Linked DNA regions of Homo sapiens: region 1 is linked to region 2. Evidence: fine-mapped expression QTL. A gene starts in region 2. The other region holds a variant in brackets. All regions are shown on one strand. Distances are between the middles of the regions. Region 1 has its middle 17 kb from the start of BLOC1S3. Region 2 holds the start of EXOC3L2 (exocyst complex component 3 like 2).

Evidence for each region. PIP is the estimated chance that this variant, and not a neighbour inherited with it, causes the effect. A credible set is the group of variants that fine-mapping cannot tell apart.
Region 1: its variant is the best candidate, but not a certain one, in a credible set for the expression of EXOC3L2 in whole blood (INTERVAL, PIP 0.88).

What each region holds. Positions count from the first base shown.
Region 1 is chr19:45,188,053-45,203,577 of GRCh38, reverse strand. It overlaps a transcript of BLOC1S3 not described here. Among named protein-coding and RNA genes, the nearest start is that of BLOC1S3, 17 kb to the right of the region's middle. The variant G/A (reference allele first, on the strand shown) is at 7,596.
Region 2 is chr19:45,234,817-45,250,341 of GRCh38, reverse strand. It overlaps EXOC3L2 (exocyst complex component 3 like 2), which reads left to right and starts at 4,935. Exons shown (of 12, transcript NM_001382422.1): 1 at 4,935-5,001; 2 at 11,281-11,819; 3 at 15,516-15,525. The coding sequence starts at 11,297. RefSeq lists an enhancer at 4,245-5,241.

The DNA.
Region 1 (15,525 bases), 47 kb after region 2:
ACTTGAGGCTGGGCGCGGTGGCTCATGCCTGTAATCCCAGCACTTTGGGAAGCTTAGGCAGGCGGATCACGAGGTCAGGAGTTCGAGACCAGCCTCACCAACATGGTGAAACCCCGTCTCTACTAAAAATACAAAAATTAGCTGGGAATGGTGGCGCACGCCTGTAATCCCAGCTACTTAGGAGGCTGAGGCAGGAGAATCGCTTGAACCCAAGAGGCAGAGATTGCAGTGAGCCGAGAGCACGTCATTGCACTCCAGCCCGGACAACAGCAAGACTCCATCTCAAATAAATAAATAAATAAATAAATAAATAAACTTGAAAGGCAGTCAGGCCACAAGGACTGCAATTTCTGGGCAAGTCCTGGTGCCTTGCTGGGCTCAGAACAAGTGGACCTGGAGGGCATGAGGCCCACTGAGACATTGGCTGAGGCAGCCAAGGGAGTGCTTGAGCCCCCGAGCCCCAAACCCCAGGCAGTATAGCTTGCAGTTCCGGGAGAGACTCCTTCCTTCTGCTTGAGAAGAGGAGACGAAAAGTCAAGAGGTCTTTGTTTTGCAACTTGGATACCAGCTCAGCCATAGGAGGATAGGGCACCAGGCGGAGTCCTGAGGCCCCCATTCCAGGCCCTAACTCCTGGATGACATTTTTGGACACACCCTGGACCAGAAGGGAAGCCGCTGCCTTGAAAGGAAGGACCCAGTCCTGGCAGGATTCATTACTTGCTGACTAAAGATCTCTTGGGCCTTGAATAAACATCAGTGGTTGCCAGAGAGTGCTCGCCGCAGGCCTTGGGTGAGACCCAGTGCCGTGCTGATTTCAGGTGTGACCCAGCGCATTCCCAGCTGTGGTGGCCCTGGGGAAAGACTCCTGCTTGAGGAAAGGAGAGGAAAGAGTAAAGGAGACTTTGTCTTGCATCTTGGACACCAGCTTGGCCACAGTAGGGTAGAGCACCCAGCAGCTGCTGGCATCCCCAATTGAGGTCTTGGCTCTTGCACAGCATTTCTGGACCTGCCCTGGGCTAGAGGGGAGCTGTCTTCCCTGAAGGAAAAGACCCAGGCCTGGCAGCACTCACCACAAGCTGACTGAAGAGGGCCTGGGCCTTGAGTGAACATCAGCAGTAGCCAGGCAGTACCTGCCATGGGCCTGGAGCAGTGGTGGCCACAGAGAGAGACTCCTGTGTGAGGAAAAGTGAGGGAAGAGTGGTGTATTAGTCTGTTTTCATGCTGCTGATAAAGACATACCTGAGACTGGGTAATTAATAAAGAAAAAGAGGCTTAATGAACTCCCAGTTCCACGTGGCTGGGGAGGCCTCACAATCATGGCAGAAGCTGAAAGGCACGTCTTTTTTTTTTTTTTTTTTTTTTTTTTTAGATGGAGTCTCACTCTGTCACCCAGGCTGGAGTGCAGTGGCACAGTCTGGGCTAACTGCAAGCTCTGCCTCCCGGGTTCACGCCATTCTCCTGCCTCAGCCTCCAGAGTAGCTGGGATTACAGGCGCCCAGCTAATTTTTTGTAGTTTTTAGTAGAGACGGGGTTTCACCATGTTAGCCAGGATGGTCTCGATCTCCTGACCTCATGATCCACCCGCCTCGGCCTCCCAAAGTGCTGGGATTACAGGCGTGAGCTGCCATGCCTGGCCAAAAGGCACGTCTTACATGGTGGCAGGCAAGACAGAATGAGAACCAAGCCAAAGGGGTTTCCCCTTATAAAGCCATCAGATCTCATGAGACTTATTCAATACCACAAGAACAGTATGGGGGAAACTGCCCCCATGACTCACTTATCTCCCACTGGGTACCCCCTATAACATAGGGGAATTATGGGAGCTACAAATCAAGATGAGATTTGGGTGGGACACAGCCAAACCATATCAAGTAGGAAAGACTTTTTCTTGTGGCTTGGGTGCCAGCTCAGCCACAGTAGAATAGAGCACCAGGTAGATTCCTAAGGTTTCTGTCTCCAGGCCCTGGCTCCCAGATGGCATTTCTGGACCTGCCCTGGGCCAGGAGAGAACTCACCATCCTGAAGGGAAGGACACAAGCCCGGCAGGCTTCACCACCTGCTGGCCGAAGAGCCCTTGGGCCTTGTGTGAACATTGGTGGAAGCCAGGTAGTGGTTGCCACGGGCCCTGGGTGAGACCTAGTGGTGTGTTGGCTTTGGGTCTGACCCAGTGCAGTCCCAGTGGTGGTGGCCACAAGGGTACTTGTGTCACCCCTCCAGCAGCCCCAGGCAGCTCCGTACAGAGATAGAGAGACTGCGTTTGTTTGGAGAAAGTAAGGGAAGAGAAGAGTTTCTGCCTGGTAATTTAGGGAATTCTCCTGAATCTTAACCAAGACCACTGAGGCAGTACCTCTAAGATTCCTTTTTTTTTTTTTTTTGAGACAGGGTCTTACTCTGTCGCCCAGGCTGGAATGCAGTGCTGCAATCTCCACTCAGTGCAACCTCCACCTCCCATGCGCAAGTGATTCTCCCGCCTCAGCCTCCCAAGTAGCTGGGACTACAGGCGCCCACCCCTACGCCTGGCAAATTTTTGTATTTTTTGGTAGAGACAGGGTTTCACCATGTTGGCCAGGCTGGTCTCAAACTCCCGACCTCAGATGATCCGCCTGCCTAGGCTGCCCAATGTGCTGGGATTACAGGCGTGAGCCACTGCGCCTGGCCAGCACCTCTAAGATGCTGCAAGAATCACAGCATTACTGAGCCTGGGGTGCCCCCTAATGCAGATACAGCTGCAGTGACCAAAAGTTTAGTTCACAACACTCAATTTCCTGGCAAGCCTTCCCAAGAAGGATGGGTTCAAATAAGCTCAGACTACAAAGACTACAATAAACACTGAACTCATCAATGCCCAGCCATTGACGAACATCCACAAGCATTGACACCATCCAGGAAAACATGACCTCACCAAGTGAACTAAACAAGGCTCCAGTGACCAACCCCATTGTGACAGAGCTATGTGACCTTTCAGACGGAGAATTCAAAACAGCTGTTTTGAGGAAGCTCAATGAAATTCAAGATAACACAGAGAAGGGATTCAGAATCCTATCGGATAAATTAACCAAACAGATTGAAATAATTTTTAAAAATTAAGCAGAAAGGGGCTGGGCACGGTGTCTCACACCTGTAATCCCAGCATTTCGGGAGGCCGAGGCAGGTGGATCACGAGGTCATGAGATCAAGACCATCCTGGCTAACACGGTGAAACCCCATCTCTACTAAAAATACAAAAAAATTAGCCAGGCGTGGTGGTAGGCGCCTGTAGTCCCAGCTACTCGGAAGGCTGAGGCAGGAGGATGGCATGAACTCGGGAGGTGGAGCTTGCAGTGAGCGGAGATCGTGTCACTGCACCCCAGCCTGGGCGACACAGCGAGACTCCGTCTCAAAAAAAAAAAAAAAAATTAAGTAGAAAAAATTCAACTGACACACTGAAGAATGCATCAGTCTCTGAACAGTAGAATTGATCAACCTGAAGAATTGGTGAGCTCAAAGACAGGCTATTTGAAAATATGCAGTCAGGCCGGGCACAGTGGCTCATACCTGTAATCCCAGCACTTTGAAAGGCTGAAGTGGTTGGATCACCTGAGGTCAGGAGTTTGAGACTAGTTTGGCCAACATAGTGAAATCCTGTCTCTACTAAAAATAGAAAAATTAGCTGGGCATGGTGGTGCATGCCTGTAATCCCAGCTACTCAGGAGGCTGAGGCTCCAGAATTGATTGAACGCAGGAAGTGGAGGTTGTAGTGAGCCAAGATTGCAGCACCACTGCACTCCAGCCTGGTCGACAAAGTGAGACTCTGTCTCAAAAAGAGAAGAGAAGAGAGGAGAGGAGAGGAGGAGAAGAGAAGAGAAGAAAGAAGAGAAGAGAACAGAAGAGAAGAGAACAGAAGAGAACAGAAGAGAAGAGAAAAGAGATGAGACAGGACAAGACACAGCCAGAGGAGACAAAAGAAAAAATAAAAAAGAATAAAGGCCAGGCGCAGTGGCTCACACCTGTAATCCCAGCACTTTGGGAGGCCGAGGCAAGCGGATCACGAGGTCAGGAGTTTGAGACCATCCTGGCCAACATGGTGAAACCCCATCTCTACCAAAATACAAAAAATTAGCCAGGTGTAGTGGCAGGCACCTGTAATCCCAGCTACTCGGGAGGCTGAGGCAGGGGAATTGCTTGAACCCGGGAGGCGGAGGTTGCAGTGAGCCAAGATCGTGCCACTGTGCTCCAGCCTGGAGACAGAGCAAGACTCCATCTCAAAAAAAAAAAAAAAAAAAAAAAAAGAATAAGGCACACCTACAAGATCTAGAAAATAGCCACAAAAAGGAAAAATCTGAGTTTTATTGGCCGTAAAGAGAAAGTAGAGAGATTGGAATAGAAAGTTTATTAAGTGGGATAATAACAGAGAACTTTCCAAACCTAGAAAAAGATATCAATATTCAAATACGAGAAGGTTATAGAACACTAGGCAGATTTAACCCAAAGACTACCTTCAAGGCATTTAATAATCAAACTCCCAAAGATCAGGGATAAAGAAAGGGTCCTAAAAGCAGCAAGAGAAAAGTAACAAATAACTTACAATGGAGGCCGTGTGCAGTGGTTCACGTCTGTAATCCCCAGCATTTAGGGAGGCTGAGGCGGGTGAATCACTTGAGGCCAGGAGTTACAGACCAGTCTGGGCAACATGGTGAAATCCCGTCTCGACTAAAAATACAAAAAAAATTAGCCAGGCATGAGGCCAGGCGCAGTGGCTCACACCTGTAATCCCAGCTACTCGGGAGGCTGAGGCACGAGAATCGCTTGAACCTGGGAGGTGCAGGTTGCAGTGAGCCGAGATTTCGTCACTGTACTCCAGCCTGGGTGACTGAGTGAGACTCTGTCTCAAAAACAAAAACAAAAACAAACATACAATGGAGCTCCAATACGTCTGGCAGCAGACTTCAGTGGAAACCTCACAGGCTAGGATAGAGTGGCACGACATATTGAAAGTGATGAAGTTGGCTGGGTGCGGCGGCTCACGCCTGTAATCCCAGCACTTTGGGAGGCTGAGACAGGTGGATCACCTGAGGTCAGGAGTTCAAGACCAGCCTGGCCAACATGGCGAAACCTTGTCTCTACTAAAAATACAAAAAAGTTAGCTGAGCGTGGTGGCGGGTGCCTGTAATCCCAGCTACTTGGGAGGCTGAGGCAGGAGAATTGCTTGAACCTGGGAGGCGGAGGTTGCAGTGAGCCGAGCTCGCACCACTGCACTCCAGAGCCTGGGCAACAAAGCAAGACTCTGAAAACAAAACAAAACAAACAAACAAAAAAACCCCTTCCCCATATGGTTCTAAGTTAGAGTTGGCCAAAGGAGAAAATTGCATGAAAACTGGAAGAAAGAAGTTTAGCACAGTATTTTTCTTGGACGGTTGCTCTATTTAGATGGGGGAAAAGACAGATGTAGATGCATTAGGGGGTTCCCATTTGCTCTCGCTCTGCCCTGCAGGGTGAGACAGATGCAAGTGTTCGGGACCTTGTTTCCCCCACACTCCTGTTTATCTCTTCTCAATTTTCTGCCCTGCTAACCACCAGTGACCTCGGGCTCAACATCAGATGCAGAGGCAACAGCCTTCCATGACTCTGATAGTTGGATATGCCTGACTTCCCAGATTTTCCTGCAAACTCTGACTTGTTCCCCTGTCTAGTGCTTCAGGAGGGCTGGCTAGAGATTTTTCATGGACTCCCTAACTCTCCTTTCTAGATCTTTTTTTTTTTTTTTTTTTTTTTTTGAGACGGAGTCTCGCTCAGCCACCCAGGCTGGAGTGCAGTGGTGCAATCTTGGGTCACTGCAACCACCATCTCCCAGGTTCAAGCAATTCTCCTGTTTCAGCCTCCTGAGTAGCTGGGATTACAGGCACCCACCATCATGCCTGGCTAATTTTTGTATTTTAGTGGAGACGGGGTTTCACCATGTTGGCCAGGCTGGTCTTGAACTCCTGACCTCAGGTGATCCACCCGCCTCGGCCTCCCAACGTGCTAGGATCACAGGGGGAGCCACCACACCCAGCCTCTAAATCTTCTTTTTTATTCTTTTTCTTCTTCTTCTTTTTTTTTGGTGGTTGTTGTTGAGACAGAGTCTCACTCCATTGCCCAGGCTGGAGTGCAGTGGCACAATCTCAGCTTACTGCAAACTCCACCTCCCGGGTTCAAGTGATTCTCATGCCTCAGCCTCCTGGGTAGCTGGAATTACAGGCACCTGCCACCACACCCAGCTAATTTTTGTTTACTTTGTAGAGACAGGGTTTCGCCATGTTGCCCAGGCTGGTCTTGAACTCCTGAGCTCTAGCAAATCTTCCCACCTTGGTCTCCCAAAGTGCTAGGATTACAGGTGTGAGCCACCGCACCTGGACTTCTTTTTCTTTTTTTGAGATAAGGTCTCACTGTGTCACCCAGGCTGGAGTGCAGTGGCACGATCATAGCTCACTGCAGCCATAAGGGAGTAAAGGAAAGAACACCCCTCAGCCCCCTCCACTCCCAGCATCCCACCCACCTGCTGAGGTCCCACTTGGGTCCCTGTGCCCAGGAAACCCCGTGGGCCCCTGTGGGACCATACCCCCTGCAAGAAGCCATGGCTTCTGAGCACTTCCCCACTCAAACTCTTCTGAGTCACTGATCTCTCTCAGACACTTTCCTAAAATTGATTTTTTTTTTTTTTGAGACAGTCTTGCTCTGTTGCCCAGGCTGGAGTGCAGTGGCCCCATCTCGGCTCACTGCAAGCTCTGCCTCCCAGGTTCACGCCATTCTCCTGCCTCAGCCTCCCACGTAGCTGGGACTACAGGCACCCGCCACCATGCCTGGCTAATTTTTTGTATTTTTAGTATTTTTAGTAGAGACAGGGTTTCACCGTGTTAGCCAGGATGGTCTTGATCTCCTGACCTTATGATCCACCCGCCTCGGCCTCCCAAAGTGCTAGGATTACAGGCGTGAGCCACCGCTCCCGGCTAAGAGTTTTTTCCTTTTCAATTCTCTCACTTACCCAAAGACCCCTGCCTCCTGCTCATCAAATTCACTCCCATCTCCCTAAATTCCCTCAGGAATATTCCCCTAGCACCTCCTCCTTGGCAGGCTCAGTGCTGTGGGACACTGAGGACCACCCAGAGGGGTCAGACCTACCCTGACCTCAGACCTCCTAGCTCAGCCTCACCTGGACCATGGACACCATGTTGCATTATATTTGAGACAGAGTCTCGCTATGTCACCCAGGCTAGACTGCACTGGTGCGATCTCAGCTCACTGCAACCTCCATCTCCTGGGCTCAAGCAATTCTCGAGCTTCAGCCACCCAAGTAGCTGGGATCATAGGCATGTGCCACCATGCCTGGGCAACAGAATGAGATCCTGTCTCAAAAAAAAATAAAAAATTAAAAAATAAAGTAGCACCTAACAGAATTTAAAATGTACTCACCCTTTGACCCAACAACTCCACATCTGGAAATGTGTTTCTTTCCAAGATACCCATACATGTGGGAAATGAATATATTCAAAGATATTCTTTGCCACACCATATGTAGTCACAAACAATAGGGAACACCCTGAATGATCATCAATAGGGGAATGACTAGCAGATGGCTT[G/A]GTCACCGTATAAGTAAACAGAATGGCTCAGCTGTTTTTCATTCTGATTAGAATGCTCTCCAAGACATATGACTACTTGAAAAAGGCAGGCTGGGCACGGTGGCTCACGCCCGTAATCCCACCACTTTGGGAGGCCAAGGCGGGTGGATCACCTGAAGTTGGGAGGTCGAGACCAGCCTGGCCAACATGGTGAAACCTTGTCTCTACTAAAAACACAAAAATTAGCCAAGCGTGGTGGTGCACACCTATAGTCCCAGCTACTCGGGAGGCTGAGGCAGGAGAATCACTTGAAGCCAGGAGGCGGAGATTGCAGTGCACTGAGGTCATGCCATTGCACTCCAGCCTGGCCAACAAGAGAGAAACTCTGAGGAAGGAAGGAAGGAGGGAGGAAGGGAGAGAGGGAGGGAGGGAGGGAGGGAGGGAAGGAGGGAGGGAGGAGAACAGTAGGCTTCCATGTAAATTAAATATACATTTGTGGCTGGGCCCTGTGGCTCATGCCTATAATCCCAACACTTTGGGAGGCCAAAGTGGGCGGATCACTTGAGTGCAGGAGTTCAAGACCAGCCTGGGCAACATTCCAAAACCCCGTCTCTGGTAAAATTACAAAAAGTAACTGGGCATGGTGGTGTGAACCTGTAGTCCCAGCTACTCGGGTGGCTGAGGTGGGAGGACTGCCTGAGCCCAGGAGGTCTAGGCTACAGTTAGCCATGACCATGCCACCGCACCTTAGGAAGGTGGCAGAGTGAGACCCTGCCTCAAAAAGAATAAAAAATTGGCCAGGCGCGGTGGCTCACACCTGTAATCCCAGCACTTTGGGAGGCAGAGGTGGGTGGATCACACGAGGTCAGGAGTTCAAGCCCAGCCTGACCAACATGCAGAAACCCCATCTCTACTACGTGCTGGCGCATGCCTGTAATCCCATCTACCGGGAGGCTGGGGCAGGAGACTCGCTTGAACTGGGAGGCGGAGATTGCAGTGAGCTGAGATCATGTCATTGCACTCCAGCCTGGGCAACAAGAGCGAAACTCCATCTCAAAAAAAAAAAAAAAAGTATAACACACATACCAGAGTTCACAAATTTTTAGTGTGAACACAAATCTTTAATTTCCACCCCTATGAAGAAATACAATATTGACAGTGGCTCAGATGCAACCCTTCATGCAGTCATTACCCCTTGCCTCCTCCCCAATTAACTGCTGTCCTGACCTTCAACACCCCTAGCATGGTTTTGCCTGGTTCTGACTGGAGATAAGTGGAATCATACGGTATGTGCTCTGGCTTTGTTGGTGGAACATTATGCTTGTGAGATACATTCATGTTGTGTACAGCAGAAGGTCATTCGTGTTCATTGCTATAATGTCTGTTGTATGAATGTAGCATGCTTTACTTACCCAGTCACCAATGGATTGACATTTAGATTGTGTCTAGTTTGAAGGTACAAACAATTTATCTAAGCACACTGTCTTTTGGAACACATATGTGCTCATAATAAACAAGAGGGAAATAAATGGAACGATCGCGGGTGTATTAGTCTGTTTTTATACTGCTATAAATAAATACCTGAGAAATTGGCTGGGCGCGGTGGCTCATGCCTGTAATCCCAGCACTTTGGGAGGCTGAGGCAGGTGGATCACCTGAGGTTAGGAGTTCGAGACCAGCCTGACCAATATGGTGAAACCCCATCTCTACTAAAAATACAAAAATTAGGCAGACATGGTGGCACAGGCCTAAAATCCCAGCTACTTGGGAGGCTGAGGCAGGAGAATTGCTTGAACCTGGGAGGCAGAGGTTGCAGTGAGCTGAGATCGTGCCACTGCACTCTAGCCTGGGCGACAAAGTGAGACTCCATCTCATTAAAAAAAAAAAAAAAAAAAAAAAAAGGCCAGGCGCGGTGGCTCACACCTGTAATCCCAGCACTTTGGGAGGCCAAGGAGGGCGGATCGTGAGGTCAGGAGATCGAGACCATCCTGGCTAACACGGTGAAACCCCTTCTCTACTAAAAATACAAAAAAATTAGCTGGGCGTGGTGGTGGGTGCCTGTAGTCCCGGCTACTCAGGAGGCTGAGGCAGGAGAATGGCATGAACCTGGGAGGAGGAGCTTGCAGTGAGCCGAGATCACACCACTGCACTCCAGCCTGGGCGACAGGGCAAGACTCCATCTCAAAAACAAAAACAACAACAACAAAAAAAAAACAGAAAAAATGGAATAGAAACTTCAGTGACTACACAGCAAAAGGAATACACATTTTGCAAAAACAGTTTTAAAAAGTCAAACAGATGGCTCTAGCCCTTGACAAGCAAAACCCAGCAATCTCCAAGGAAAGGGTGAATCCAATTTCAATAATTAACATATTATAATACTCCAAAAGTCCAATTTTCAACAAAAATACTACAAAACATACAAAGAAACGGGCAAGTATGGCTTATTTATAGTAAAAAAAAGTTCTTTTGACAGAGACCATCTCTGAGGAAGCACAGACATTGGAATTACTAGTCACAGACATCATCGACTGTCTTAAATATGCTTTATGAGCTAAAGGAAACCATAGACAAAGAATAAATGGAAATCAGGAAAATGATATACAACCAATATACAAACAACATGAGAAAATCAATAAAGAGATAGCAATTATGAGGAGGCAGGGGAAGATGGCTGAATAGAAGCCTCCAGTAATCATCTCCTTCAGAAGAACAACCAGCTGAACAACTATCCACACAAAAAAGCACTTCATAAGAACCAAAATCAGGTGAGCGAACACAGTACCTGGTTTTAACTTCATATCACTGAAAGAGCCACTGAACGGGGTAGCAAAAATAGTCTCTTTTTTTTTTTTTTTTTTTTTTTTTTTTGAGACGGAGTTTTGCTCTTGTTGCCCAGGCTGGAGTGCAATGGAGTGATCTCGGCTCACAGCAACCTCCGCCTCCTGGGTTCAAGTATTCTCCTGCCTCAGCCTCCTGAGTAGCTGGGATTACACGCGTGTGCCACAACACCCGGCTAATTTTGTATGTTTAGTAGACACGGGGTTTCACCGTGTTGGTCAGGCTGGTCTCGAACTCCTGACCTCAGGTGATCTGCCTGCCTCAGCCTCCCAGAGTGCTGGGATTACAGGCGTGAGCCACCACGCCTGGCTTGAAATGTCTTCCTCACACTGGAGGAGATAAGCGGGAAGAATAAAGAGGTCTTTGTTTTGCACCTTGGATATCAGCTCAGCCACCGTAGGATAGCGCACCAAGCAGGGTCCTGAGGGCCCCATTCCAGGCTCTAGCTTCAAGGCGATTTCTAGAAACATCTGGGCCAGAAAAGAAACTGCTGCCTTGAAGGAAATAGCCCAGTCCAGGCAGGATTCATTACCTGCTGACTAAAGGACCCTTGAATAATCAGCAGCAGTACCCAGGCAGTACTCCGTGTGGGCCTTGAGTGAGACTCAGAGACACACTGACTTCAGATATGACCCAGCATATTCCCTGACGTGGTGACTACGGGGAGAGGCTCCTACTGCTCAAGGAAGCGGGAGGGAAGAGTAAAGGGGCCTTTGTCTGGCAGCTTAGTTACCAGCTCGGCCACAGTGGAGTAGAGCACCAAGTTGGCTCTTGGGGGTCCCTGATTCCAGGCCTTGGCTCTTGGATGTCATTTCTGGACCTACCTTTGGCCAGAGGGGAGCCCACTGCCCTGAAGGGAGAGACCCAGGCCTGGCAGCCTTCACACAAGCTGACTGAAGAGACCTTGGTCCTTAAATGAACACCGGCAGTAGCCAAGCAGTAGCTGCCATGGTCCTGGGGCAGTGGTGGCCACAGGGAGAGGCTCCCCTGCTTGCAGAAAAAAGAGTGGGGAAGATTTTGTCTTGTGGCTTGTGTGCCAGCTCAGCCACAGTAGAACAGAGTACCAGGTAGAGTCCCTAAGGTTTCCAACTCCAGGCCCTGGCTCCCAGATGGCATCTCTGGGCGCACCTGTGATGGGGGGCTCACACCACACTGAAAGGATGAACACAAGCCTGGCTGGATTTGCCGTCTGCTCCTCACAGAGCCCTAGGGCCTTCAGTGGACATAGGTGGTACCCAGGCAGTGCTGACCACGGGCCTTGGGGGAGACCCCGTGTTGGGCTGGCTACACGTCTGACCCAGCACAGTCCCAGCACTGGTGGCCACAGCAGTGCTTGTATCACCCTTCCCCCAGCTCCAGGCAGCTCAGCACAGAGAGACTCCATTTGTTTGGGAGAAAAGGAAGAAGACAAGAATCTCTGCCTGATAATCCAGAGAATTCTTCCAGATCTTATCCAAGACCACCAAGGCAGTGTCTCTACAAGTCTCCAAGGGCCACGGCATTCCTGGGCTTGGGGTGCCCCCTGATGCAGATACAGCTGCAGTGACTAAAGACTTAGATCGCAACACAAAAGTCTTTTCAATACCTGGAAAGCCTTCCAAAGAAGGATGAGTACAGACAAGCCCAGACTGTGAAGACTATAATAAATACCTAACTCTTCAGTGCCCAGAAATGTATGAACATCCTCAGGTAACAAAACCATCCAGGAAAACATGACCTCACCACAGAAACTAAATAAAGCCGGCCGGGCACAGTGGCTCATGCCTGTAATACCAGCACTTTGGGAGGCCGAGGCGGGCAGATCACCTGAGGTTGGGAGTTCAAGACCAGCCTGACCAACATGGAGAAACCCTATCTCACTAAAAATACAAAATTAGCTGGGCGTGGTGGTGCATGCCTGTAATCCCAGCTACTCGGGAGGCTGAGGCATGAGAATCGCTTCAACCAGGGAGGCGGAGGTTGTGGTGAGCCGAGATCGTGCCATTGCACTCCAGCCTGGGCAACAAGAGCAAAACTCTGTCTCAAAAAAAATAAAAAAATAAAATAAAAAATAAACTAGGCTGGGTGTGGTGGCTCACGCCTGTAATCCCAGCACTTTGGGAGGCCGAGGCGGGCGGATCGTGAGGTCAGGAGATCGAGACCATCCTGACTAACATGGTGAAACCCCGTCTCTACTAAAAAAACAAAAAATTAGCCGGGCGTGGTGTCGGGTGCCTGTGGTCCCAGCTACTCAGGAGGCTGAGGCAGGAGAATGGCGTGAACCTGGGAGGCAGAGCTTGCAGTGAGCCGAGATTGCGCCACTGCACTCCAGCCTGGGCGACAGAGCAAGACTCTCTCTCAAAAAATAAAATAAAATAAAATAAAATAAAATAAAATAAAATAAAATAAAAGCATCAGTGACCAATCATAGAGAGACAGAGATACGTGACCTTTCAGACAGATAATTGATTAGCTGTTCTGGGGTTGGGTGCAGTGGCTGGCGCCTGTAATCCCAGCATTTTGGGAGGCTGAGGTGGGCAGATCACTTGAGCTCAAGAGTTCGAGACCAGCCTGGGCAACATGGCAAAACCCCGTTTCTACAAAAAAAATACAAAAATTGGCCAGGCATGGTAGTGTGCACCTGTGGTCCCAGCTACTCAGGAGGCTAAGGTGAGAGGATGGTTAGAGCGCAGGAGGTGGAGGTTGCAGTAAGCCAAGACTGTGGCACTGCACTCCAGCCTGGGTGATAGAGCCAGATCTTGTCTCAACAAGAAACAAACAAACAAAAACTATATATATGGGTGGGGGAGAGAGAGAGAGAGAGAGAAGGAGGGGTCTGTTTTGAGGAAACTCAACAAAATTCAAGATAACACAGAAGAAATTCAGAATTCTATCAGATAAATTAAACAAAGAGATTGAAATAATTAAAAGAATCAGGCAGAAGTTCTGGAGTTGAAAAATTCAATTGACAAACTAAAGAATGCATCAGAGTCTCTCACCAGCAGAATTAATCAAGCAGAAGAAAAAATTAGTGGCTGGGCATGGTGACTGATGCCTGTAATCCCAGTACTTTGGGAGGCCAAGGCAGGAGGGTCACTGGAGCCTAGGAGCTTGAGACGAGGCCAGGTTACATAGCAAGACCCCTTTCTCTATCTTAGAAAAAGAAAAAAAAAGAAATAATTAGTGAACTTGAAGAAAGGCTATTTGAAAATACACAGAGGAGACAAAAGATAAAAGAATAAAGCATACCTACAAAATCTAGAAAATAGCCTCAAAAGGACAAATCTAAGAATTACTGGACTTAAAGAGGAGGTAGAGAGAGACAGAGGTAGAAGGTTTATCTAAAGGAATAATAACACAGAACTTCCCAAATCTACAGAAGGATATCGGTATTCAAATGTAAGAAGGTTATAGAACACCAAGCAGATTTAACCCAAAGAAGACTACCTGCCGGGCGTGGTGGCTCACGCCTGTAATCCCAACACTTTGGGCGGGCGGATCACCTGAGATCGGGAGTTTGAGACCAGCCTGGCCAACATGGAGAAACCCCATCTCTACTAAAAAATACCAAAAAAAAAAAAAAAAAAGCCAGGCTTGGTGGCACATGCCTATAATCTCAGCTATTCGGGAGGCTTAGGCAGGAGAATCACTTGAACCTGGGAGGTAGAGGTTGTGGTGAGGTGAGATCGCACCATTACACTCCAGCCTGGGCAACAAGAGCGAAACTCCGTCTCAAAAAAAGAAAAAAAAAAAAAAGAAGACTACCTCAAGTCCTTTAATAATCAAACTCCCAAAGGTCAAGGATAAAGAAAGAATCCTAAAAGCAGCAAGACAGAAGTAACAAATAACATTCAATGGCGCTCTGGCTGGGTGCAGTGGCACATACTTGTAATCCCAGCACTTTGGGAGGCCAAGGTGTGTGGATCACTTGAGGTCAGGAGTTTGAGACGAGGCTGGCCAACATGGTGAAACCTTATCTCTATTAAAAATATAAAAATTAGCCAGTGGGGTTGGGGAGGTGGCAGAGGAGGGGATGGATGGTTAATGGGTACAAAAATAATAATTAGAAAGAACAGCCGGGCACAGTGACTCATGCCTGTAATCCCAGCACTTTGGGAGCCCAAGGCGGGAGGATCACCTGAGGTCAGGAGTTTGAGACTAGCCAGGCCAACATGGTGAAACCCCATCTCTACTACAAATACAAAAATTAGCTGGGCAGAGGCAGAGGTTGCAGTGAGCAGAGATCACGCCACTGCACCCCAGCCTGGGCAACAGAGCAAGACTCTGCCTCAAAATAGTAATAATAATAATAGGCTGGGAGTGTTGGCTCATGCCTGTAATCCCAGCACCTTGGGAGGCCAAGGTGGGTGGATCACCTGAGGTCAGGAGTTCGAGACCAGTCTGACCAACGTGGTGAAACCCCGTCTCTACTAAATATAAAAAATTAGCCAGGCATGGGGGCGCGTGCCTGTAATCCCAGCTACTTGGGAGGCTGAGGCAGGAGAATTGCTTGAACAAGGGAGTCACAGGTTGCAATGAGCCAAGAATGCACCATTGCACTCCAGCCTGGGCAACAAGAGTGAAACTCTGTCTCAAATAATAATAATAATAATAATAATAATAATAATAATAATTAGAAAGAATGAATAAGATCTACTATTTGACAGCACATCCGGGTGACTAGTTGTACATTTTAAAGTAACTAAAAGAAGCCGGGCGCTGTGGCTCACACCTGTAATCCCAGCACTTTGGGAGGCTGAGATGGGGGACTGCTTGAGGCCAAGAGTTCTGTACAAGCCTGGTCAACATGGCAGAGACTATCTCTATTAAAAAGAAAAAAAATAACGAAAAGGGTGTAATTGACCAGTTGCGGTGGCTCATGCCTATAATCCCAGCACTCTGGGAGGCTGAGGCAGGCAGATCACCTGAGGTTGGGAGTTCGAGACCAGCCTGGCCAACATGGTGAAACCTTGACTCTACTAAAAATACAAAAATTAGTCGGACATAGTGGCATACACTTGTAATCCCAGCTACTCGGGAGGCCGAGGCAGGAGAATTGCTTGAACCCAGGAGGCAGAGGTTGCAGTGAGCTGAGATCACGCTGCTGCACTCCAGCCTGGGCGACAGAGTG
Region 2 (15,525 bases):
AGGACAAGAGCCTCTCGGAGGCCACACAGCGCTGTGGGGACCATCCATGCTCTGTGGACCAGGGTGGGATGAAAGAAAGACAGGCATTACATAGTCTTGGCCTGGGAGTCACATGGTTTTGGGAAGGGGTCTGTGCCCTGCCTTCTTCTATCTGAGGCTTATTTTCCTGAGCCTCAGTTTCCCCTTCTAAAACAGCAGTGTGCTGGATCTGGCTGGAGCGAGCTGATTGTTATGTCTCAGGAATTTTGGAACTGGTTGTTAAACACAGCCATTATTAAAAATTAAATTATGCAAACATACAATTAAATTACATTAAAGGTACAAGTAATACATACTCATCACGTCCTAGTTATCTTACTACATTTGCCATTATCTGTGATCTTGAGGTTACCTACGTCTATTGTAGCTGCACAGTAAAATTACTATATAATGGGGGGCAAAAATGCCATGTGATATCACCTTGGTAGCTTGAAATTAGCCATGGTGGGAATATTTACACCATGGAAATTGGCAAATGCTACAAATTAAGGCTCCACACCCCCACCTGCAGAGAGCTGGGGGTGTTTTGTTTTGCTTTGCTTTGTTTTGTTTTTGAGACAGGGTCTCACTGCATTACCCAGGCTAGAGTGCAGTGGCACGATTATGGCTCACCGCAGCCTGGACATCCCCGGCTCAAGCAATCCTCCCAGCTCAGCCCCACCAAGTCACTGGGACTACAGGTGTGCACCACCACGCCCAGCTAATTTTTTGTAGCCATATTGCCCAGGCTGATCTCCAACTCTCAGGCTCAGGCGATCCTCCCACTTCGGCCTCCTAAAGTGCTGGGACTACCCTGCACTCAGCCAAAAGCTGGTTGTGAAAGCACAGCACTGCTTGATACTATGAGCAACACAGACTCATGGCAGTTGCCCTTGTGCCAGGCTCTGAGCAGTTTCTCCTTTCTGCCACCCCAAGAGGTAGGGAGCATCTTTATCAATCCCATTTGCAGATGAGGAAACAGAGGCCCAAGGAAGGGAGAAACGTCACACGCTGAAGGTCACACGGCAAATTAGTGGCAGGGCTACAATTTGAATCCAAGTGCTCCCAAGTTCCAGAACTTGGACCCTCTCTCAACCACTGTGGTTTCCTGTCTCCGAAAAATAATAGCAGCAACCTCAGGCTGCTACTATTTTTATTTGTCAATTTGTTTATATTTATTTGTTATTTTAATGTTACTGCTAACAAATAAATGAGAATCTTTGAGTAAAGTGCTTCACAGGGGACCAGATTCAAAATTCATATGTGGGGACATTATTATTACTATTTGGCAAATATGGCCCGAGGAGCCTCAGGGACAGTGGCAGAGAGGGTGGAGTTCCGGGGTAGTGTTCTAGACGTACTGTGATCCCAGGGACGCCGCAGGGTGAAAGTGGGGGTCTTGGGGGTAGGCTAGAGGGGCTGAGCGCCCCCAACCCGTTCCCTGCATTGGCGCTGAGAGCTGCAGTTCTACCGTGCACCACACGGGGGCAGCCGATCACCTCCCTACACGCGCCCCACACACTCCAGGGTCCACCCCTGCCCTCCCTTCCCCAACAGCGTCCCCACCCCATTTCCCAGATGTGGGGGGACCGAGGCTTACAGAGAGGGAGGCTGCAAAGTGGATGAACCTTGAAAACAGCATGTGGCCGGGCGCGGTGGCTCACGCCTGTAATCCCAGCACTTTGGGAGGCCGAGGCGGGCGGATCACGAGGTCAGGAGATCGAGACCACGGTGAAACCCCGTCTCTACTAAAAATACAAAAAATTAGCCGGGCGCGGTGGCGGGCGCCTGTAGTCCCAGCTACTCAGGAGGCTGAGGCAGGAGAATGGCGTGAACCCGGGAAGCGGAGCTGGCAGTGAGCTGAGATCGCGCCACTGCACTCCAGCCTGGGCGGCAGAGTGAGAATCCGTCTCAAAAAAGAAAAAAAGAAAACAGCATGTTTAGCGAAAGAAGTCAGACGCAAAAGACCACTTACTGTATGCTTCCATTCATATGAAATATTCAGAATTGGCAAATCCATAGACAGAAAGTAGATTAATGGTTGCCAGGGGTTGGAGGCTGGGGAATGAGAAATGACTGCTGATGGGTACCAGGTTTCTTTTTGGGGTGATGAGAATGTTCTGGAATTAAATAGTGGTGACGCTTGCTGCAACCTTGTGAATATACTAAAACCTACCGGACTCTGTTTGAAAAGGGTGACTCTTATGTATGTGAATTGTATTTCAATAAAAAATAATAATAAAATTTAAAAAGGGGGCTGGACGCGGTGACTCACACCTGTAATCCCCGTACTTTGGGAGGCCAGAACGGGAGGATCACTTGAGCCCAGGAGTTCGAGACCAGCCTGGGCAACATAGTGAGACCCTGTCTCTAAATCAAAATAAAAAAAATAATTTTTAAAAAGGAGGGGGACGGGCACGGTGGCTCACGCCTGTAATCCCAGCCCTTTGGGAGGCCGAGGCGGGCAGATCACGAGGTCAGGAGATCGAGATCATCCTGGCTAACACAGTGAAAACCTGTCTCTACTAAAAAAAATACAAAAAATTAGCCGGGCGCTTGCAGGTGGCAAGCGCCTGCGTCCCAGCTACTCGGGAGGCTGAGGCAGAAGAATTGCTTGAACCCAGGAGGCGGAGGTTGCAGTGAGCAGAGATCACGCCACTGCACTCCAGCCTGGCGACAGAGCAAGACTCCGTCTCTAAATAAATAAATAAATAAATAAATAAATAAGGCGGGGTGGAAATCCTGCACGATCCCAGTACATGATGGGCCACTGCTGACCATGGGTCCGCGGTGCAGAGGCCGAGCTGGGGGGCAAGGCCTGTTCCTCTGCCTCCCGACCTGGTCATCCAGCTAGCCCTTCCTCCACAACCTATGTCTGGTGAATTCATTCCTTCAACTGGGGCATTCAGACCTTTGAATCTTAACCCTTGGATCCAGGAGGGAGCTGTGATCCCTAAGCCCAGCCCCCGATCCTAATGTTGACCCCAACCCTGATCCCAGCCTGGACTTTGCCTAGGCCAGTGATCACGCATCCCCCTCAGGCTGTGCCTGAGCACTTGAACACAGTTTATCTTATTTATTTATTTGTTTGTTTGTTTATTTGAGATGGAGTCTCACTCTGTCTCACAGGCCGGAGAGTGCAGTGGCACAATCTCGGCTCACCGCAACCTCTGCCTCCTGGGTTCAATCGATTTCTTCCGTCTCAGCCTCCCGAGTAGCTGGGATTACAGGTATGCACCACCACACCTGGCTAATTTTTGTGTTTTTAGTAGAGGCAGGGTTTCATCAGTTTGGCCAGGCTGGTCTCAAACTTCTGACCTCAAGCGATCCACCCACCTTGGCCTCCCAAAGTGCTGGGATTATAGGCATAAGCCACTGCAACCAGCCCAGTTTTATTTATTTAAAAAAAATTTTTTTTTTCTTAATTTTTGAGACAGGGTCTCTCTCTGTCACCCAGGCTGGAGCGCAGTGGCGAGATCATGGCTCACTGCAGCCTCCACCTCCCAGGATCAAGTGATCCTCCCACTTCAGCTCCCTTAGTAACTAGGACTACAGCGTGCCACCACACTTGGCTAATTAAAAAAATTTTTTTTTTTGTAGAGACGGGGTCTTGCTATATTATCAGGCTGGTCTTGATCTCCTGGGCTCAAGCAATCCCCCTGCCTTGGCTCCCAAAGTGCTGGAATTACAGGCATGAGCCACCACACATGGCCCTAGCCTTTTAAAGTAACCCTGACTCTCATACCCAACCCCACCCAGCACCAGCTCCAGCCCCAGCCCTCACTTCACTTGGCATCCCAACTCTAGCAGGAAGTCCATCTCCAAACCCACCTCCAACCCTCAGCTTCATTTAAATTCATTTAAATCTTGACTACTGAGGGCCAGGCACGCAGCTAGGCTTATAAAGATGAACAGGATCAACAAAGTGAGCTTTGCTGAGTTTATCTGCAAGGAATCCAGTTGCATCTGATAATTTCAGATTGTAGAAGGTGCAATAAAGAAATTGACAGGCTGGGCACAGTGGCTTACGCCTGTAATCCCAGCACTTTGGGAAGCCGAGGCAGGAGGATGGCTTGAGGCCAGGAGTTTGAGACCAGCCTGGAGAACCTAATGAGACCCGTGTCTCTACAAAAAATACAAAAATTAGCTGGGCATGGTGGTGCATGCCTGTAGTCCCAGCTACTCAGGAAGCTGAGGTGGGAGGATCTCTTGAGTCTGGGAGATCCAGGCTGCAGTAAGCTATTGTTACGCCACTGCACTCCAGCCTGGGCAACAGAGCAAGACTCTGTCTCAGGAAAAAAAAAAAGAAAAATAAATTGACAAAGCAGAGTGACGACTCTGTGAGACGGGACAGTGGAGAACAGAGGAAGAGACTGTGGGGCTGGAACTGGGATGATGAAAAGGAGGGCCTCATGCAGAGACCTGGGTACAGGGGCTTCTAGACAAAGAGAACCACAATTCCAAAGCCATGTCCAGTGCCCTCCTCCATAGGTCCCCCTCCCCAGCCCCTGGGCCCAGCAAAACTTCCCTCCTGGTCTTCAGCCCGTGGCAGGGAACTCTAGAGAGATGCGTGCCTGCCCCCCGGTTCTCATTCTAAGGCCTCGGGGCTTGCCCATGCTGGAGAGCAGCTCTGGGCTGGCGTCCAGCTTGGGGTGTCTCCCCGGGGCGCCCAGGATGGTGTTGTCACCTTGGGAGGCGTGAAGAGCATGCAGGAGTGGGCGGATTCCGGCCTGGAGCGGGGGTGAGGGTGGGGGCCCAGCTGTGGGCCTCGGCCTTCCCAGCCCAACCGCAGCCTGGCCTAAAAGGGCAGACAGATAATGAGTCCTTCCCGCCCCTGGCCCCAGAGAGGGAGGGGTTTCCTGACAGGAAATTGTCCTCCTCCGAGCACCCCCCCAACTCAGATCCAAGCTCCCAGCAGTCCTGGCTGAAGTAGCCTGGGGACAGGACAGCAGCGGGAACAGAAGGACGGGCAGGAGGACAGAGGTGAGTGTGCTGGGGACAGGGGGAAGGGGTCCCCCTTCCCCAGGGCAACTGGGAAAACAGTTGCCCTTAGTTGCACTGGACCAGAGCTGATGAGAACCTGTACCTTGAACCCAGCAGAGGCTGGGGGCAAAGAGAGAATCTGGGGCCTGACTCCAGAGGGGTGCTGGCGAGAAGGCAGAAAGGAGATGAAAATGAGAGGAGGGTGCAGGGGAGAATTTGAGGACTCGCGGGGTCCACAAAGGGTGCAAGGGAGCATTAGAAACCTTGGTGCCACCAAAGGAGAATAGAGATGAGATGACATTGGGTCGAATGTCCTGCGAGTCTGGGCGGGAAGACTGAGGCCAGGAAGGATCGGGTATTTGTTCTATCCCAAGAGATGGGGTCTCGGAGATGGGAGACAGGGACCAGGTAGGGATTGAGATCAAGCAGGAGAGACCGAGATCAGGTTGGGATTGGAGATGTGGATGAGCTTGCAGTGGTCTGGGCTGATGACAGGATTGTGTTTGGGGTCAAGGACTAGATTGGGGTTGCACTGGTTGGGGTTGGGCTTGGGGACATGCCATATGGAAAGACCGTTCTCTAATACAGATGCTGAGCGTTGGAGGTGATGGATTCCGCAAACCGAGGTCAGGGCCGCTGCAGAAGGTTAGGGACTCCGGGGAAAAGGCTGGCAGTGAGGAAGAGGAGGAGGGGCTCAAAGAGGGAAGCTCTGGTGGCCAAGACATCCTGCGGGCCTGAGAGGCTGGGGGCTTGAGGGATGCCTCGGAAGTGAGTCAGGGGCTGGGCACTGGGAGGCAGACAGAGGGTTGGAGGGGGCAGGATGTCAGCACCAGTTTGCAGAGGCGGGTGTTGGAGCCAGGAAGGGGAAAGACGTCGGAGACAGTTTTGGGAAAATGTTGCAGCCAGGTTTGGGGATGTTGGATCCAGTTTGGAGGCGATATTGAAGCCAGGTGGGGGAAAGTCAGATGTAGTCCGGGCAAGGTTGACTTCAATTGGAGGGAAATTCGAGCCTGAAATTTTGAGAGGAAGATGGAGACAGTTATGGGGTGGAGGGGGGATGATGGAGCCATTTTGGGATGAGGCATGTGGATGCCAGTTCAGAGGATGAAAGAGAAATCAAGGCTGGGTGTGGTGGCTCATGACTGTAATCCCAGCACTTTGGGAGGCTGGGGCAGGTGGATCGCTTGAACTCAGGAGTTGACCAACCTGGGCAACAGGGCGAAACCTCATCTCTACTAAAAATACAAAAATTAGCCAGGTGTGGTGACTTGCACTTGTACTCCCAGCTACTCGGGAGGTTGAGGTGGGAGGATTGCTTGAGCCTGGGAAGCAGAGGTTGCAGTGAGCCGAGACCATGCCACTGCACTCCAACCTGGGTGACAGAGTGAGACTGTCTAAAAAATAAAAGAGAAGGACAGAGTGCGGTGGCTCACACCTGTAATCCCAGCACTTTGGGAGGCTGAAACAGGCGGATCACAAGGTCAGGAGTTCGAGACCAGCCTGGCCAATATGGTGAAACCCCATCTGTACTAAAAATACAAAAATTAGCCAGGCGTGGTGGTGGGCACCTGTAGTCCCAGCTACTTGGGAGGCTGAGGCAGGAGAAATCGCTTGAACCCTGGAGGTGGAGGTGCAGTGAGCTGAAATCGCGCCATTGCACTCCAGCCTGGGTGACAGAGCGAGACTCCATCTGAAAAAATAAAATAAAATAGAAGAGAAATGAGTGTGCAAATAATGTGTGTGCATGGGGGAGTATCTATTGCACACAGCCATGGGGGCTCCAGGCAAGGGGTCGTCATGGTGACTGCCTCCTGTGGGGGCGGGGGCCCATGGAGACCGGAAGGAGGTCCGAGAGCGTTTCTAGGAACTGGAGGGTTGAGAAGCAGCAGCTCAGGGGTTGAAACAGGGAAAGAAAGAAGGGGCCTCCCCATCATGGAAAGGGGTGCTCTTACTCATAACCTAGGCAACCCAGGCCTTTTGCACACCACCCTCTTCCCAGGCCTCCTGTCCACCCCCGCACGTCTGCATAATCCTGACCCTGTCCTGACCTGCTCAGAACCCTGTCGTGGTGACAAACAAGCTACACGTCCAGCAATAGAAGAACAAGTGAACATCTGACCCTTTACACAATTCATATAGTGGAATATTACATAGCACTTAAATGAACTGGAGCTGTATGGCTAGACATGGATAAATTCTCACAAGTTCATAACGTGAGCAAAAAAATAAATTTTAAAGCAAGTTGCAAGATACAAATAGTATGATACCATTTATAGAGAGTTTGAAACCATGTAGAACAGTATATTATTTCTGGATACAAGTCTATGGAGCATGGGATAAAAATCTACTTGGACGGGTAAACAGCACATTCATTCTGGATGCTGGATTCCTTAGGAGAAGGCCAGAGCGAGTGGGACCAGGAGAGGTGGCAGGAGGAGGCTGCACGCATTTGTAATTCTTTTTTTTTTTTTTTTTTTTTGAGATGGAGTTTCGCTCTGTTGCCTAGGCTGGAGTGCAGTGGCACAGTCTGGGCTCACTGCAGCATCCGCCTCCTGGGTTCAAGTGATTCTCCTGCCTCAACCTCCCAAGTAGCTAGGACTACAGGCACCCGCCACCACACCCAGCTAATTTTTGTGTTTTTAGTAGAGGCAGGGTTTCACCATGTTTGCCAGGTTTGTCTCAAACTCCTGACCTCAGGTGATCCTCCCTCCTCGGCCTCCCAAAGTGCTGGGATTATAGGCGTGAGCCACTGCGCCTGGCTTGTTCTTTAAAACAAAAATCAGGGCAGTGGATGGTGGCTCACGCCTGTAATTCTAGTACTTTGGGAGGCCGAGGAGGGAGGATTGCTTGAGGCCAGGAGCAGGAGTTCCAGACCAGCATGGGCAATATAGCGAGACCCCATCTATAACAAAAAATTAAACAATAAAATTAGCAGGATGTCCCCGTTGCTTGGGAGGCTGAGGTGGGAGGATCGCTTGAGCCCAGGAGTTCAAGGCTGCAGCCAGCCATGATCACGCCTCTGCACTCCAGCCTGGGCAACAGAGTGAGATCCTGTCTCTAAAGACAAAAGCAACAACAAAAACCTGAACTAAGAGAGCAAATGATTGTGTGAGCTGTGGCTAGGATTGTAGGCACAGAAGTGTTTATTAAGCTTGTCTTCTGTACTTTTCCGAATGTTTGAACTATTTCATTGTTTTAAAAAGCACCTATCTGTGGCTCTGCAGGGCTCTTGGAAGAAAGCCTGTCCCTTATCAAGGAACTTAAAGCCCTGCGTGGCCTGCTCCCTAGTGACCTCTTCCAGCTCGACTCACCCTCCTCCTCCCCACACAAGGAATGAACTGTCTTGCCACTTTCCTTCCTTCATTTCCTGTTTAGCACCCATTCCCTGAGTGTCTGCCCTGTGCTGGGAGCTGGGGACACAGTGGTGACTGAGACAGCCCCAGCCCTGTCCTGCTGAGGTTTGCAGTCCAGTAAGGGACACAGATCTGTCCCCAGACAGGGATGACCCAGAGCAGGCAGAGGTGAGGTGTGGGAACCCAGGGACTGGGAGCCTGAGGGTCACAGAGGGCTTCCTGGAGGAGGGGGCATGGGGCTGAGTCCTGAAGTGTGAGTCCTGAAGTCCTGACTGGAGCATGGAGAACAGGCGTCTATGTAGAAGCACCAGCAGATGCTGAAACCTGGAGGTTCCTGGGGTAAGGAGGAGGCTACGGGACAGCACTAGTGACGTGTGCAGCTGCCAGAGCATGAAGGCTGTGGTGAGAGGCCTCAGCTTTGTCCTGAAGATACTAGGGAGCCATGGAAGGCTTAGGAGATGGAGAAGAGCAGGTTTGTGCTTTTTCTTTTCTTTTTTTTTTTTTTTTTTTGAGATGGAGTCTTGCTCTGTCGCCCAGGCTGGAGTGCAGTGGCGCGATCTCAGCTCACTGCAATCTCCGCCTTCCGCGTTCATGCCATTCTCCTGCCTCAGCCTCCCGAGTAGCTGGGGCTACAGGCGCCTGCCACTGCACCCAGCTAATTTTTTGTATTTTTAGTAGAGACGAGGTTTCACCATGATCTCGATCTCCTGACCTTGTGATCCGCCCGCCTCGGCCTCCCAAAGTGCTGGGATTACAGGCGTGAGCCACTGCACCCGGCCTGGTTTGCGCTTTTTCAAGGTCCTCAAAGGCGGACTGGAGGTGCCAAGACTAGAGGCTGGGGACCAGGGAGGAGGCCAGGGCAGGGAAGTGGGCAAGGGTTCCGCTTGGGGTAGGGGCTATGGGAAGTGAGTGAAAGGAGGGAGCGCAGACTGAAGAGAGGCTTAGGAGATGGAATGGGCAGGACTCAGGAAGCTGTAATGGCAGGGATGGGGGCTGCCCTGGCCACTGCTGTGTCCCTAACGCCTGCACAGGGCTGGGCCCATGGCTAATACCTAGTAAGTTGTTTTGTTTTATTTTATTTTTTGAGACTGAGTCTTGCTCTATTGCCCAGGCCAGAATGCGGTGGTGTGATCTCAGCTCACCGCAACTTCTGCCTCCTGGGTTCAAACAATTCTCCTGCCTCAGCCTCCCGAGTAGCTGGGATTACAGGTGCATGCCACCACGCCCGGCTAATTTTTTACTTTTTTTATTTTTAGTAGAGACGGGGTTTCACCATGTTGGCCAAGCTGGTCTCGAACTCCTGACCTCAGGTGATCTGCCTGCCTCCACCTCCCAAAGTGCTGGGATTACAGGCATGAGCGACCACGCCTGGCCTTAAGCCATTTTAAAAGCATACAATTAAGTGGCACTTAATGCATTCACAGTGTTGTACAACCATCACCTTTATCTAGTTCCAGAGTGTCTTCCTTTCCCCAAAAGGAAACCCTGCATCCATTAGCAGCCACTCGCCATTCCCCGTTCTCTCCAGTCCTATTGTCAGTCTCCTTTCTGTCTCTAAGGATTTGCCTAGAGACCTGCGAGGTGATTTGCACCTGTAATCCCAGCACTTTGGGAGGCAGAAGTGGATAGATCCCTTGAGGCCAGGAGTTTGAGACCAGCCTGGGCAACATAGCAAGACCCTGTCTCAATAAATAAATAAATAAATTAATTAATTAATTAAGTGGGCATGGTGGTACACACCTGTAGTCCCAGCTGCTGAGGAGGCTGAGGTACGAGGATCATTTGAGCCCAGGAGTTTCAGGCTGCAGTGAACTATGATGGGGCCATTGCACTCCAGCCTGGGTGACAGGGTGAGTCCCAGTCTCAAAAAAAAAAAAAAAAAAAATTAGGCTTTGCCTATTCTAGACATTTCCCAATAAGTTTTTGCTGAAGAGATGAATGAGGGAGAGATGACAAGGGTACAAATCAAACAGGAGAAATGAAGGGGATGAGGGGGTGTAGGCAGGTGCTCAGGAGTCTGCCCTGGACGTCTGGGTGGATGGTAGGGCCTGAGTCCCCATATCATCTCTGCCCTTGACTGACTGTGTCATCTTGGGAGGGAGCCTTCCCCCCTCTCAGCCTGTTTCTCCACGGAGTAGGAGGATCAACTTAAGATAGAGAATATTCCAGGCCAGCAGAGGTGGCTCACTCTTGTAATCCCAGCACTTTGGGAGGCTGAAGTAGGTGGATCGCCTGAGTCAGGAGTTCAAGACCAGCCTGGCCAACATGGTGAAACCACATATCTACTAAAAATATAAAACTTAGCCTTGTGTGGTGGCGCGCGCCTGTAGTCCCAGCTACTCCGGAGGCTGAGGCAGGAGACTTGCTTGAACCTGGGAGGCGGAGGTTGCAGTGAGCCGAGATCGTGCCACTGCACTCCAGCCTGGGTGACAGAGTGAGTGAGACTCCATCTCAAAAGAAAAAAAAAAAAGAGGCAAGGCGCGGTGGCTCACGCCTGTAATCCCAGCACTTTGGGAGGCCGAGGCAGGTGGATCACAAAGTCAGGAGATCGAGACCATCTTGGCTCACACAGTGAAACCCCGTCTCTACTAAAAATACAAAAGTTAGCCGGGCGTGGTGGTGGGCGCCTGTAGTCCCAGCTACTCAGGAGGCTGAGGCAGGAGAATCGCGTGAACCCGGGAGGCGGAGCTTGCAGTGAGCTGAGATCGTGCCACTGCACTCCAGCCTGGGCGACAGAGCGAGACCCCGTCTCAAAAAAAAAAAAAAAAAAAGTCCCCATCTTATAAGCTTGTGCAGATCAAGGGCTTATTAAGTGCTCAGGCAAGTGTCTGGTACGCTCACCCCAAAGTGCTCGGTACACAGAGGCACCGTCATCCATACCACCATTGTCATCAGCATCGCCCATGGTCATTATTTTTTTCCCCAGGTCCCCACCTGTCAAAATGCCTATCCTGAAGAATCTGGGAGTGTCAGACCCTAAGGTGCCCCGGGCGGGGACCCTGCCCCTGAGGTCCTCTCGGAACCCCTTTGAAGAAGTTTCAGGGCTGGAGGAAGAAGAGGCCGGGGAGCTGGGGTCCCTCCCCAATGGAACATCTTGTCGCCGCCGCGCCACCCTGGAGAAGCTTGCGGGCCTGGCCCCCTTCCGGCTGGGCTGGGCCCCGGGCCGGCGGGCAGGCAGCCCTGGGGATGGGCAGCCCCGCTCTTTCTTGGGCCGTGTGCTGGTACCAGGGATACGCAGGAGCTCAGCAGATTTTGGCCTCCTGGCCCGGCTGCATGGGACCCGAGCCCACGGCGACGAGGAGGCAGCGGGGGAGGCCGCCCGGAGACTGGCCTTCCTGAGACTGGGGCGTGGATCCAAGCCCCAGCGTGCGTCCCTGGCTGAGAGAGTGGTGCCTGCAGGCGAGGCAGCTCCAGAGCCCCCACCCAAGGTCCCAGAGCCCCCAAAGATGAAGGAGCCATTGTCAGGTGAGTCCGGAGCCCTGACCCTGTCCTGGGAGAATCCCAGTGCCCATGTCCATCCCCAGCCCTGGTGGTCCCAGGCTTCATACTTAAGCCCATCCCAGCTACCACCTGTGACCCCGACCTGCAATTCACATGTCTAACTCACATCTCCCACCTCCATGCCAGCTCCAACCCATTACCACTGCAGTCCTAATCCCTGTCGTCAACCTTTCTCTTCAGTGCCACCTGTTAATATATGCCCACCCTCAATCTTTGCCTCCTCCACCTGCCGTCTTCAGCCCTACTCCCATGTCTAAAGCCAAGGGAATACCTGATTTTGGTCCCATCTCTCCCCCTTCTCTTTCTATCCCCAATTTCTTCAATTTCTTTATTTTATTTATTTTATTATTATTATTTTTTTGCCTCTGTCGCCCAGGCTGGAGTGCAGTGGTGCAATCTTGGCTCACTGCATCCTCTGCCTCTGGGGTTCAAACAATTCTCCTGCCTCAGCCTCCCGAGTAGCTGATATTACAGGCATGTGCCACCTGGATAATTTTTGTACTTTAGTAGAGGTAAGGTTTCATCATGTTGGCCAGGCTGGTCTCAAACTCCTGACCTCAAGTGATCTGCCTGCCTCGTCCTCCCAAAATGTTGGGATTACAGGCTTGAGCCACGGCGTGTGGCCAATTTCTCCTTTTTATGAGGACACCACTCACATGGGATTCGGGTCTGCCCTATGATCTCACTTTAATTTGATTGCCTCTGTAAAGACCCTATTTCCAAATCAGGTGACATTCTGATGTACTGGGGTGAAGACTTCACATATCTTTTTTTTTTCTGGGGGGACGTAATTCAATCCCTAACACCACCCTGTCTTCATCCTCAGTCCCCATTCCTACTCCAAGCCCCAGTGTCTTCCTCAGTGCCTTTTCTGTTCTCACCCCACACTTATTCCAAGCCCACCATCAGTCTCTATCTGAGACACATCCGTATGCTTCTCGTACAGCTCATCCTTTCCTCCAAATGCCATCTAGTTTTGGAGACAAGGTCTCGCTCTATCACTCAGGCTAGAGGCTAGAGTGCAGTGGTGCAATCATGGCTCTCTGCAGCCCTGACCTCCTGGGCTCAAGCAATCCTCCCACCTTAGCCACCAGAGTAGCTGGGACTACAGGCACATATGATCACACCTGGCTAATTTTCACATTTTTTGTAGAGATGGGGGTCTCGCTATGTTGCTCAAGTTGGTCTTGAACTCCTGGCTTCAAGTAATCCTCCTGCCTCAGCTTCTCAAAGTGCTGGAATGACAGGCATGAGCCACTGCGCCTGGCCTAAACGCCATCTTTAATGTCATTGTCTATGTCCAACACCATGGCAACCCCCAACTGGTCCAGCCCCGTTTCATATCCCATTCTTCCCCATGTTCACCTTCCACCCTTTTAAACTCTTTTGGTCTCACTCTTAACCCCCAACCCCAGGCCCCTCTCAGCACCCACCTTCCACCCATTTCCCTCTGGCGACCTCCTTTTTTTTTTTTTTTCCTTTGAGACAGGGTCTCACTCTGTTGCCCAGGCTAGAGTGCAATGGTACAATCTCAGCTCACTGCAACCTCCGCTTCCTGGGTTCAAGCGATTCTCCTGTCTCAACCTCCTGAGTAGCTGGGATTACAGGCATGCATCACCATCCATGCCTGGCTAAATTTTTTTTGTATTTTTTGTAGAGATGGGGTTTTGCCATGTTGGCCAGGCTGGTCTTGAACTCCTGATCTCAGGTGATCCACCCGCCTCAGCCTCCCAAAGTGCTGGGATTACAAGCATGAGTCACCGCACCTGGCCATCAACCTCCTTATTCAGTCCTATTTGAGTTCCTAGTTCTTCCTCAGCCCCCAGTTTCAATTCCAACTCCAAACGCAACCTCCTCTTCATCCCTAATCTATCTTCACCCCTATCCTGAGTCCCAGTCCTAAACCCCCATCCCCAACCTCCATTTTCAATTCCATCCATGTTCCTATTCCCAAGCCCAACTCACTTCCACAATTCATCTTCAAACTCACATCAATCTTTTTTTTTTTTTTTTTTTTTTTTGAGATGGAGTCTAGCTCTGTCATCCAGGCTGGAGTGCAATGGCAAGATCTCAGTTCATTGCAGCCTTCGCCGCCTGGGTTCAAGCAATTCTCCTGTCTCAGCCTCCTGAGTAGCTGGGACTACAGGAATGCACCACCATGCCTGGCTAATTTTTGTATTTTTAGTAGAGACCAGGTTTCACCATATTGGTCAGTCTGGTCTTGAACTCCTGACCTCAGGTGATCCGCCCACCTTCCAAAGTGCTAGGAGTACAGGCATGAGCCACCGCACTCGGCCTTCACATCAATCTTTATGTCCTTTCCATCCTCAGCTTTCACCTACATTCCCCTCCCCCACCTCTCCAACCTCATCCCTACCCAGACCCCAATGTCATTCTTGCCTCTTTCCCATTTCTGTCCAGACTCCCACCTGACCTCATCCTAACCCTAAACTCCCTCATCCCAACCCCCACCTTCACCCCATCCTCACCTCCGGCCCTATCCCCATCCGTGTCCCAATCCCCATCTTAATTCACCGCCACCCCCAACCCTGCCTTTATCTCTGCTCCCGTGCCTGAGCCCGGCTTTTAGCCCCGAGGCCCGAACTGCTCCAGGGCTGGGGACCTCAGGAGAGCCTTTTCTGTCCTCTGATGCCCTCCACGTTCTGGCCAGAGGCTATTTCAGCCCCAGCTCCCTGGGGACTGGGAGGGCACTGGAGGGAGGTGAGGAGGGGGTGACTAGAGCCCCGCCTTCTGGAAACGGATGGGCAGAAATAGCGCTGGCCAGGAAATAGTTTCTCTGCCAGGGAGGAAGTGGAGGGGGGTGGAGGTGTCGAGGGTAACCCTGGGCTGCCAGGACCCTCCTTCAGCCTCAGAGGCCTTCCAGCCCGACTCGCCTTTCTCGAGGCAGTCTGAACTCATCAGAGGGCCAGATCAGCCCACAGCCATCCCCACCCCAAAAAGACCCCATCAGTGGTCCCATATCCTCTCCCCATCTCCAAGTCACCACCCTGCCCCTCCTACTCCCACCGGCTGCCTCCATCTCTCTCCCCCTTACGTGGCTCCTCTCTCAACCTTCTCGCCTCCTCCGACCCCTCCTCCATTTTTCCGCCCTGCAACCTCCCCAGATCCCCTCCTCAGTCACAGGCATTTTTCTTTTCCCCCTCTCTCTTTTTTATTTATTTATTTTTGAGATAGAGTCTCGCTCAACATGTTGCCCAGGCTGGGGTGCAGTGGCGCGATCTCGGCTCACTGCAACCTCTGCCTTCCGGGTTCAAGCGATTCTCCTGCCTCTCGAGTAGCTGGGATTATAGGTGTACGCCACTACGCCTGGCTAATTTTTGTATTTTTAGTAGAGACGAGGTTTTGCCATGTTGGCCAGGCTGGTCTTGAACTCCTGACCTCAAGTGATCCGCCGGCCTCGGCCTCCCAAAGTGCTAGGATTACAAGCATGAGCCCCTCACCCTGACCCCTCCCCTACATCCTTCACTCAACATCCTTCTTTCTTGCTCTTCTCCGGGCTCTTCTCTGCCCCCACACTTTCCCGCCTCCTGTAACCCTTTTCCCCTCATCTCTCTCCCCTTCCTAAGCACCCCCAACCCCGCGTCCGGCATCGCCCTCCTCCCCCCCGCGCACTGCTGACCTCCCGCTTTGCTCCCGCAGTGCTGGAGAT